2 separate regions of the Homo sapiens genome follow, and region 1 is linked to region 2. Evidence: fine-mapped QTL for protein levels in blood plasma. Region 2 holds a variant in brackets. A gene starts in the other region. All regions are shown on their reverse strands. Region 1 holds the start of CLEC4C (C-type lectin domain family 4 member C). Region 2 has its middle 44 kb from the start of SC5D.

What was found. PIP is the posterior inclusion probability: the model's chance that the variant is causal. The UK Biobank Pharma Proteomics Project read protein levels with antibody pairs (Olink). The fine-mapping took linkage between variants from a reference panel, not from the people measured, so its PIPs are less certain.
Region 1: CLEC4C starts here. The variant in region 2 is fine-mapped to the plasma level of the CLEC4C protein (UK Biobank, PIP 0.98).

Annotation. Positions count from the first base shown.
Region 1 is chr12:7,745,199-7,750,574 of GRCh38, reverse strand. CLEC4C (C-type lectin domain family 4 member C) reads left to right here and starts at 3,200. Exons shown (of 6, transcript NM_001371390.1): 1 at 3,200-3,257; 2 at 4,152-4,244. The coding sequence starts at 3,227. RefSeq lists enhancers at 885-964, 1,145-1,324, 1,345-1,424.
Region 2 is chr11:121,334,306-121,339,681 of GRCh38, reverse strand. No RefSeq gene overlaps it. Among named protein-coding and RNA genes, the nearest start is that of SC5D, 44 kb to the right of the region's middle. RefSeq lists an enhancer at 1,224-1,373 and a silencer at 1,954-2,043. The variant G/A (reference allele first, on the strand shown) is at 2,949.

The DNA.
Region 1 (5,376 bases), not on the chromosome of region 2:
GTAAATCCAGGCTAATCCGCTAGAGGATGACCAAAGAGAGACGTGAATCAGCCAGCCCCACCCAGCCCACCAGCTTATTGCAGAGTGAGCTCAGCTGAGATGGAACCGATCCGATCCAATCCAAACCAGAATCACCCAGTGGTGTTCAGCCCAAATTGCTGACTCTCGGGAACTATGAACTAATTGAATAGCTGTGTATTTTAAGTTTTAAGTTAATTGATTATACAGCAAAACCTAACTGATGCCCTGTCCTGATTCCAAACACTGGGTACTCATGTTAAAAGAGCATCACCGGCCAGGCATGCTGGTTTACATCTGTAATCCTAGCACTTTGGGAGACCAAGGCAAGAGGATCACCTGAGCCCAGGTGTTCGAGATCAGCCTGGGAAATAACATAGCGAGACCCTGTCTCTACAAAAAAAATTTAAAAGATCCCCAGGTGTAATGACGTGTATCTATAGTCCCAGTTACTCGGGAGGCTGAGGTGGGAGGATCACTTGATCCCAGGAGGTCAAGGCTACAGTGAGTGAAGGTCGAGACACTGCACTTCAGTCTGGGCAACAGACTGATATCCTGTCTCAAAAACAAAAAATGGCCAGGCATTGTGGCTCACACCTGTAATCCCAGCACTTTGGGTGGCTGAGGTGGGCGGATCACCTGAGGTTGGGAGTTCAAGACCAGTCTGACCAACATGGAGAAACCCTGTCTCTACTAAAAATACAAAATTAGACAGTCGTGGTGGCGCATGCCTGTAGTCCCAGCTACTCGGGATGCTGAGGCAGGAGAATTGCTTAAACCCGGGAGGTGGAGGTTGCAGTGAGCCAAGATTTAGCCACTGCACTCACTCCAGCCTAGGTGACCAGAGAAAGACTCCATCTCAAAAAAAAAAAATATTTCTGTTTCTCACTCAGCCAGTTTCCATCTCAGCTGGGCCAGCTGCACTCCACCTGGTCCTCAAGCTAATAGATTTCACTTCCCTGAAGGCCCACAAAATCTTTTTTTTCTCTTTTTTTTTTCGTTGACACAGAATCTCACTCTGTCACCCAGGCTGGAGTGAAGTGGTACGATTACGGCTCACTGCAATCCCTGCCTCCCAAATTCCAGTGATTCTCGTGCCTCAGCCTCCTGAGTAGCCGAAATTACAGACGTGTGCCACCATGCTTGGCTAATTTTTTGGATTTTTAGTAGAGATGGGGTTTCACTATGTTGGCCAGGCTAGTCTTGAACTCCTGGCCTGAAGCAATCCGCCCACCTCAGCCTCCCAAAGTGCTGAGATTATAGGCACGAGCCACTACACCTGGCCACAAAATTCTTTAAAGAAGCCAATCCCATCCTCCCTCAAGAGCCAAGGGGCCACCTCACCCTCTTGTTACAGCAGATCCTGCCTCCCACAGTCACCCTGCTCCCAAGTGCAACCTCTGTCTGACCCTGCATGGTGTGCGGTGCCCTCCTGCCTCAGGCCGTGAGTACATGCAGCTGAACTGCTGTCAGTCTTATCTGTCCAGTGTCGGGTGTTGTGTGTCCAGCCACCCATAACCCTGGGTTGGGACTCCCTCCCTCACCAACCGGGGGAAGAAGTAGTGAGCAAACCATCTACCAATTCTTATCTAGATTTATCCTCTTCAGCTGTAGCTTTTGCAATACTCTGGTCATACTCAAAGCATTCTGCTGGGATGTCACCTGAGCTGGGCCTACATGCAATTCTGCTTTTCTTCTGAGAAAATAATTTGTCATTCTTTCTGCTTTTATAATTTGTTCTATTTTAAATTATTTTTCTCATTTTTGCCTTTGCTCCTTTCTTCTCAGCATTGTATACTCAAAGGAATACCCTCATACTCTACATTTTAATCCAAGACAGAGGAAAGCAACAGGGAGAACCCCTGAGGCAGGGGCAGAGGGAGGTTCAGGGAACTGTAAATGGGAGGTAGACAAGAGACCAAACAGGACTTTAAGTTGTTTCAGCAAGTATACAGCTTAGAAAGGATCTCATTGGTCTGGGTCCTAAAATATCTCAAAGGATGGCTGCTAACTCAAAACTTTTTTTTTTTTGAGACTGAGTCTTGCTCTGTCACCCAGGGTGGAGTGCAGTGGCACGATCTCGGCTCACTGTAAGCTCCGCCTCCCGGGTTCAAGCAATTTTCCTGCCTCAGCCTCCTGAGTAGCTGGGACTACAGGCATGCACCACCACACCTGGCTAATTTTTGTATTTTTAGTAGAAACGGGGTTTCACCATGTTGGCCAGGATGGTCTCGATCTCTTGACCTCGTGATCCGCCCACCTCAGCTTCCCAAAGTGCTGGGATTATAGGCATGAGCCACCGTGCCCAGCTCAAAACTTTTTTCTCACTACTCTACAATTAAATCTCAGTTGAACTCTGGGAAGATTCTGGAATACCTAGGTTCTTTCTTTCTCAGTGTCTATTTCACCAGTAGTTGTAACCATCCTTCAACCAAACATCTCCATTTGAGTAGCATAGGCTATAATGGATTTTCTCTATTTAAGATTACTCAGCAGTGGCCGGGCACGTGGTGGCTCACAACGGTAACCCCAGGACTTTGGGAGGCTGTATTAGTCCGTTTTCATACTGCTGATAAAGACATACCTGAGACTGGGCAATTTACAAATGAAAGAGGCTTTTTTTTTTTTTTTTTTGGAGATGGAGTTTTGCTCTTGTTGCCCAGGCTGGAGTGCAACGGCAGGAGGTCAGGAGTTCGAGACAAGCCTGGCCAGTATGATGAAACCCTGTCACTACTAAAAATACAAAAATTAGCTGGGCATGGTGGCACATGCCTGTAGTCCCAGCTGCTCGGGAGGCTGAGGCAGGAGAATCGCTTGAACCCGCGAGGCAGAGGTAGTAGTGAGCTGAGATTGCACCACTATACTCCAGCCTGGGTGGCAGAGTGAGACCCTGTCTAGAAAAAAAAAAAAAAAAAAAAAAAAAAGACAATCAGACCTGCAACCATGAACTGTTTTTCATGTATTTCTCGATTTCCTTGTTTGTGTTTCCTTATTTCTGAACATGATGTATGTTTTAAATTGAAAGCTTTAGCTCACTGCAGAGTCTCCTAAGTCACATCTCTTCCTTTGCAAGAGTAGGCGAAGAAGGATCTAAGGGCTTGGCTTGTTTGAAAGAACCACACCCCGAAAGTAACATCTTTGGAGAAAGTGATACAAGAGCTTCTGCACCCACCTGATAGAGGAAGTCCAAAGGGTGTGCGCACACACAATGGTGCCTGAAGAAGAGCCTCAAGACCGAGGTAAGCACTCATCTTCTCAGTTCTAGGGAAGGTAGTAGGAGCAGGATGGAGTGGGAAACAGGCATTGAGGTGATAGGGATGACTTTGGAAGAAGAAGTAGACAGCTTTTCATAAATAATAGTAATTTCAGTATGGAAACAGGTATGGACCCAAGATACTTGGATCAGGGAAAGATGAAAGAAAAAAAGAAAGGCCGGGCGGGCGCGGTGGCTCACGCCTGTAATCCAGCACTTTGGGAGGCCGAGGTGGGCAGAGCACCTGAGGTCAGGAGTTCGAGACCAGCCTGACCAACATGGAGAAACCCTGTCTCTACTAAAAATAGAAAATTAGCCAGGCGTGGTGGCACATGCCTGTAATCCCAGCTACTTGGGAGGCTGAGGCAGGAGAATCACTTGAACCTGGGAGGCGGAGGTTGCAGTGAGCCGAGATCGTGCCATTGCACTCCAGCCTGGGCAACAGGAGTGAAACTCCATCTCAAAAAAAAGAAAAAAAGAAAAACAACTCGGGCCTAGAAGGCCTTAAAGGAATATGAATTTGGCCAGGCATGCAGGCAAATGCCTAAAGTCCCAGCTACTCAGAGGTTGAGGCAGGAGGACCACTTAAGCCTGGAAGTTTGAGGCCAAGGCTGTGCAATTCAAGGGAAAAGAGAGTAAGGAATTGGAAAGTACAGTTTACTCTGAGAGTTTTGCCTGGATTTGTCTTGGGTTCCAGGGTACTATCTGGTCATTTGTTCTGAGATAATTTCTATAATCTCTTTTTGCTTTCACATTTTTTCTGTTTTAATTAGTTTTGATCATAGCCTGACTTTATTATTCTAAGATTTTTGGGACTCTGGTTTCCTGGCTCTTTGGCAGTGGGGATTATGACTGTGCATTTGTCATGCTGATCTGACAGAGAAAGGACTCTGGTGGTTCCAGTTGAAGGTCTGGTCCATGGCAGTCGTATCCATCTTGCTCCTCAGTGTCTGTTTCACTGTGAGTTCTGTGGGTAAGTTCTTGGCTGGAGTGCAGTCATCTCTTGGTCCTTTTCCCAATCACATTTTATCAATTTCCTGAAGAAACACGTTCCTCTTTCTTTTTTTTTCTTTTTTTTTTTTTTTTTTTTGAGACGGAATCTCGCTCTGTCGCCCAGGATGGAGTGCAGTGGCGTGATCTCGGCTCACTGCAAGCTCACCTCCCGGGTTCATGCCATTCGCCTGCCTCAGCCTCCCGAGTAGCTGGGACTACAGGTGCCCGCCACCATGCCTGGCTAATTTTTTGTATTTTTAGTAGAGACGGGTTTTCACTGTGTTAGCCAGGGTGGTTTCGATCTCCTGACCTCGTGATCCGCCCACCTTGGCCTCCCAAAGTGCTGGGATTACAGGTGTGAGCCACCGCGCCCGGCCACGTTCCCCTTTCTTGACATAAAATGGCAACCCTAACTGAGAAGGCTATGTTTCTAATAAAATGAGTTATTACTATTATTAATTATTCTGGATAATTGTGTGTACTTCCAGGTTTCTTTGCCTGGTTTTAGTTGCATTTTTCAAATGTGATCATAACTGTCTTGGTCAGCTTGGGCTGCCATAACAAAATACCATAGACTGGGCCAGGCGTGGTAGCTCATGCCTGTAATCCCAGCACTTCGGGAGGCCAAGGCAGGCAGATCACCTGAGGTCAGGAGTTCAAGACCAGCTTGGACCATATAGTGAAACCCTGTCTCTACTAAAAATACAAAAATTAGCTGGGTGCAGTGACTCGCGCCTGTAATCCCAGCTACTTGGGAGGCTGAGGCAGGAGACTCAGTTGAACCCAGGAGGCAGAGGTTGCAGTGAGCCGAGATCACGCCACTGCACTCCAGCCTGGGTGACAGAGTGAGACTCTGTCTCAAAAAAAAAAAAAAAAAAAAAAAAAAGCATAGACTGAGTGAGTTAAAAAACAGATATTTATTTTCTGATGGTTCTGGAGGCTGGAAGTCTGACATGAGGATGTCAGGATGGTTGGGTATGGTGAGGTCCCTCTTCCTGGCTTACAGCTGATGCCCTCTTGCTGTGTCCTCACATGATGGAGGGAGTGCTAGCTCGTCACGGTTTCTTCTTATAAGAGCATTCATCTCACCATGAGAGCCCCCCCTCATAACC
Region 2 (5,376 bases):
TCCAAACCTGTCCTCATGGGGATATGGTGATCTCATTGGCCAGTGGTGATCACATTCACCACTCAAGCCACATGGCCTGTGAATGGTAAAGGTGGTCCCTCAAAGGAAGAGCAATCAGAATTCTGTATGAGAAGAGGTGTGGGGGGATGGATAATAGGTAAGTAGGAAATAGCAAAGGACCCTTAGAGTCTCATGTCTTATTGCTTCTTCCTTTACGGTGTCACTTGTACTTGTTCTCTTCTTCCCATTTCCCGGGGTTACATTTGATTTTTGCCTCGGTTGTTGAAAAAGCCCCTTCACTCATCTTTCAGCTTCTTCTCTGTTTTGCACAGCCGTGTTGCATGATTCATGGGGCACCATTTATATGAACATCTCTCTGAATGCACAGTGCAACACTGTGGACCAATTTTCTCCCCAACACCGTTCCTTCCCAGGCGATGCCCTCAGACTAAGCTTCCAAAGTGTAGTTCTAAACATACCAGAATCTGCAGAGGCTACCAGGCCAGAAAAAAGTCAGATCATTGTTCAGAGCAGGATCGAGAAACACCATATTTAAAGGGTGGGAGCTGGAATGAGATAGAACAATGAAAAGGGAATAGCGACATTGTATTGGATTAGCTGATGAAGGGAACAGGAGACAGACAGTATAAGAGACAGTTTCCTAAACACATGGAGCTTTTAATATGGTAAAGGGAGAGAACCGCACAAATATCCACTGTGTATACTAGTATGTGGGAGGAGCCACAGGAGGGGTGCTGCCCAAATTTCATAGACAACCTGTGGCTGGAACAATGAGGGACAGCATCGTCAGAGAGGTGGCATTCGAGCGGGTCTTTGGAGGACTGGTAGGGTTGTATTAGCTAAAAGGAGGTGAGGAGGTGGGCAAGCGTGGCACGGAGAATGGTTCGAACAAAGACATGGCAAGTTTGGTGGGAGGTCTGAGAGCGGTGAACAGTTCAGATCGGCTATTTCACAGGGCGGACTGTAAGACTAATTTTCGGCTAGATTGTGGAGGGTGTTGAATAGCATTGGAGTTTGAAGATGACGAAGATGGTTCAGGTTGCTAAAAAAGAAATACACCCCAAGGACAAACAGACATTTATCTGGTGGCTGGGAGGGCCATTTGCCCTTTATATGCTTTCAAGAGAGGGAGGAGCTGAGTGGCCTGCATTCCTGGGATCTGGCACTGGCAAGCCCCTTTTCCAACTGAGGCACAGCGGGCATCGTCCTGTCCTTAGCATGAGGTGTTGGGCCTGTCACCTTAGCAACCAGGATTCATGCCCCAGAACACATTTTAGCCACGGCCCCAGAGCCGTCCTGATACTGAATCTTGATTCTTGGCCCCATCTTGGCTCCCCAGCCAGGCTGTGCTCATTTGGGATTTTCTACTGTAACTGAGGCGTCCCCAGGGTCTCTCTGGGGTCTTGGAGCAGGCAGGGCGCAGAGTGTCAGGGAAATACAGTGGGTCCTATTTGCATGCTCCGTGTGCGGTATCATTTCCCAGCTGATCTGAAAGGTCAGTCAGCAGATCTTGTTTGTGAAAATAGAAAGGAACATAAGTTGCTGACTATTTCTTTCTTAATTCTTTCTCTTTCCCTTCTACCCTGGGACTGGGAGTTGGGTTATGCTTCTTGCCAGGAGCTTTCCTTCCTTGTCAACTGACTGCCTCTCTTTCTTCCCCTCTCAAAGGGACGCGATGGATTTCTTGGCTGGATTTCTGATAGTTTCTGAAAGGCCTTCACTTCTCTGCTGGCAGAGGCTGGCTTCAGTGTGACTTGTGCAACATGAGACAGTATGTATCAGGACTTCACCCCAAGGTGCCCTGGGGAACACACTCCAGCAGGGCATCCCTGCTGACCCCTCAGGGGTCCCTGGAATGGGGAAGAGGGGAGGGCAGGTGGTGGAGTTATAATACATGTGGGAGGCGTGGCCAGTATAGGTGGCTTCCCATTCCCCAGGACACCAGGCCATTTGGATAAAGTCACAGATGCCTCTTCTCTGGTCCAGACTAGTTCAGAAAGTGCTGGGCAATGAACAGATGCTCAGATGTCCTGTGGAGATGATTCATTTCTGTAAGACTTTTTTCCTACTCCTCAACTGCCTTTCAACAAGAGCTTCCTTCTTCTCCTTATGTTCTGTTGCTGGCAGCAGGGTTAGGAGTAGATCTTCTAAACCAAAATGCAGATGCCTCCAACCCAGCCTTCCAGCAGAACAGATATCAATCCTTTGATTGGAAACAACATTTCTGGGCTCTGGTTGCAAGAGAAACACCCCTCCATCCACTACCTCCACAATACACACATCTCTGTGAAGGAAGCTCACCACTTATTTGTAAAAAGGATGAACACTCTTCAAGTTAAGAGAGAATCAGGTGCTGTGGTGGACCACAAGCCTGAGAATACTCAGCAGTGCAACCCAGTTCCAATGACTGACATGCTTTATGGGACCTGTTTGAGTCAGTCAGACCCAGGTAATAAATCCCAGCTCACCCACTTGCCTGTGAGCCTGGGCATGTCATATTCAGAGCCTCAGTTTCTACATCTGTTCAATAGGACGCCAGCAGTACTCAACAGTGATGTTGGAAGAATTAGACAAGCCACGTGTGCAAAGCGTTTAGTGCAGAGTGTGACACACACTAAGCACTCAATAAGTGGTAGCTACAGGTGTTATTTAGGTGGTAGTTTTGCTATTAGTGTTTGGTACTGATTAATCAAAAGGAGGAAGATGGTCTCGAAGTGGGACCCCGTGTGCTCCCGACTGCTGTTGCTCCCACGAATAGGCCAGGCAGCTGTTACAAAATGGCATTTACATGGGAGCTAATTTAACACAATATTAATTTTTAAGATGCAGCTGGGTCATCTCCGGGCTCCAGGGCCTTCCTACTCACATCTGGCACACTGCCCCACAGAGCCAGTCTTCGCCGTGACTTCCAGATTGACCTCAGGAGG[G/A]TGTTTGTGGCTTAGCTATCAAAGGGTTGTTAATTTTACACACATACCACATTAACACACACTTTAAATGGTCTCATTAGTTTTTCTGCTGATATCCAGCTTTGAAATTATTGCTCTCACTGCAGAGCCCCCACAGACATGAGCTCTCATTATTTTTAGGGAGAATACCCACACACACCCATTAATCTAGGGCAGCTGCCATTTGGGCATTCTTTGTGGTTCAATTGGTCCATTATATTGGAGAAGTGGTAAGTCAGAAACCATCATATGCTGTTCAGTTGGGACAGATGCAAGTAGAGTAACTCAATTGCACAAATGCAGGAAAAGAGCTGGCTGCATACTTAGGTGAAAAGAATCAGGTGCTGTGGTGGACCACAAGCCTGAGAATAGTCAGCAGTGCAACTCAGGTCCAATGACTGACATTCTTTATGGGAAGCCTGTGGGCATCTGTTGCTTATCCTCAACCTGGCTAATACCCCAAAGAGGAAGCATTAGATGAAAGCGGGACTTAGTACATCTAACACAATTTCAAGGGAGGTTTTATTAAAGGCTAGCTCCTGGTATAGCTCTATAACAACCCCTTTAGCTCTGAGGGTCAGAATGTTACACTTTATTTACTTTCTCTACAAAGCTCAGAACCTTTACTTCTCAGGATTTCTTTTAAGATAAAAATTACCCTATCAAGTTTTGAAGTTGTGTATGGTGCTGTGTTGAGCCCCTTACAAAGAAGAAAGGGGTAGTGGGGCCAAGCACACACACAAGAAGGTCCTGCAGCCCTGGATGCTCACTCATCTCCACTGGCCATCAGAGGTGGACATCAGTGGGCTGGTGGTTAGAATTCTCTCTTGTGCCCTCCCCTGGCCCCTGTTCTACAGGCTATGGCTGGGCAGCCTGAAAAGTATTAGTCTTCCTCTCTTTCGGGCTGGTGCCTAGAAGCAATGGCCAGCTTCCAACGGGGCTAGAGTGATGGGGACTGAGGACACGGGACTATTTGTCAGACTCAGGCCTCCCATCAGAAATTGAGGAGGCTGGAGGTAAGTCTGCAACTTCACTACCGCAGTCATCCATAAAAAGGAACCCTTGGCTAACCATAATCCACCCCGCAGCCAGATGCTGTGCAGACTCTGTGTGTGTCTCACCAGCAAACTAAATAATAATAATAAACCTCAGTTGTGGGGACCTTCCGCAGGCAGCCCTAAAGCTGCTGGCTCTGGGCCAACACCATCCAGCAAAGTATCCAGGCAGGCACTTTGCAGAAGCAGTTTCTCTGCTGGGTATCATTTAGCAGCCATCCTCCCCTTGGACTGTAAGCTCCGTCAGACCAGGTCTTTCTCACCACATGAAGGCCCAGCATAGAGCTTAGTACCCAGTAGGCACTCAATAAGTATTTGGGCTACACATAAACACACTCCTGAATTAAGAGCTTTGAGCCGCATCATCCTCTCATGGCTGTGTGTGTTTAAAAATGAAAAAATATTTCTTCCAAATAACGAAGAAAAAAAATCAAGTTCAGAACATTATGTACTTTGTGATTCCAGTTCTGCACGAGAGAGGGAGCAAGACAGAGAAAGAGGTAGGGAGAGATAGTGAGGGATGGAGAGACTGTCAGAGGTGGGGAGACCCAGAGAAAGGCTGAACCCTGAAATATGAATAGTGGTTTTCATGGGATGGTAATCAGTTTATCTTTCTTGTTTTTCTATGTATTTTCTAAAAATGTTATATATGTGCATGTATTAGAAACATTTTTTATTAAAATTGTTAACAGATAAACACTCGGAAACCTGTGTTTTATTATGGCAACTTGGCAAATAAAATGTCCCCTTATTTACAGAGTCCCTTTCATCAGCTTCAGCCACCTTATTTATGTGCCCTCCTTTCCTCCCAGGGCTGTGATTTTTATTTTAACTTGAAGAACCAGGTTGCAGAGAGGGAAGAAAAACTCACAAAGCTCCCAGCAATCTAGAGGCTGATTTTTCCCAAGCAAGCAAGTCTCTTTGGGGAGGTGAGGAACGATTGTACTGAATGAAGAGGTGATCTAAGGTCAGCATTAAATAGATGTGTTGCTTTTCCCAGAGTCGGCTGAAAAGATCAAGTGACTTCCTCTACTGAAAAGTTACAATTCGATAATTAACAGAATTTCCTCACAGCTTTATAGGCTTCAACTCTTATTCTCTGAAGTGCTGACCTCATTGCCTCCTCTCCTCTCCAGGAAGCAGCAGTCAGAAATTGGAATTTCAGAGGGGCTGGCAGAGTTGCAATGTACCTGAGACACTAGGTACCAAGGGGAAGTAAGGGAGGGTGGGCGGCGGGAGTGGGGGCAGTGGTTGTTCTCTTTTCGCCTTAATTTCCAGGCATTTCAGAATTAAACTCATTGTTTAAATTCGGTAACTATCTAGTCTCAGATGCTTTTGCATACTACCCGGTTCCT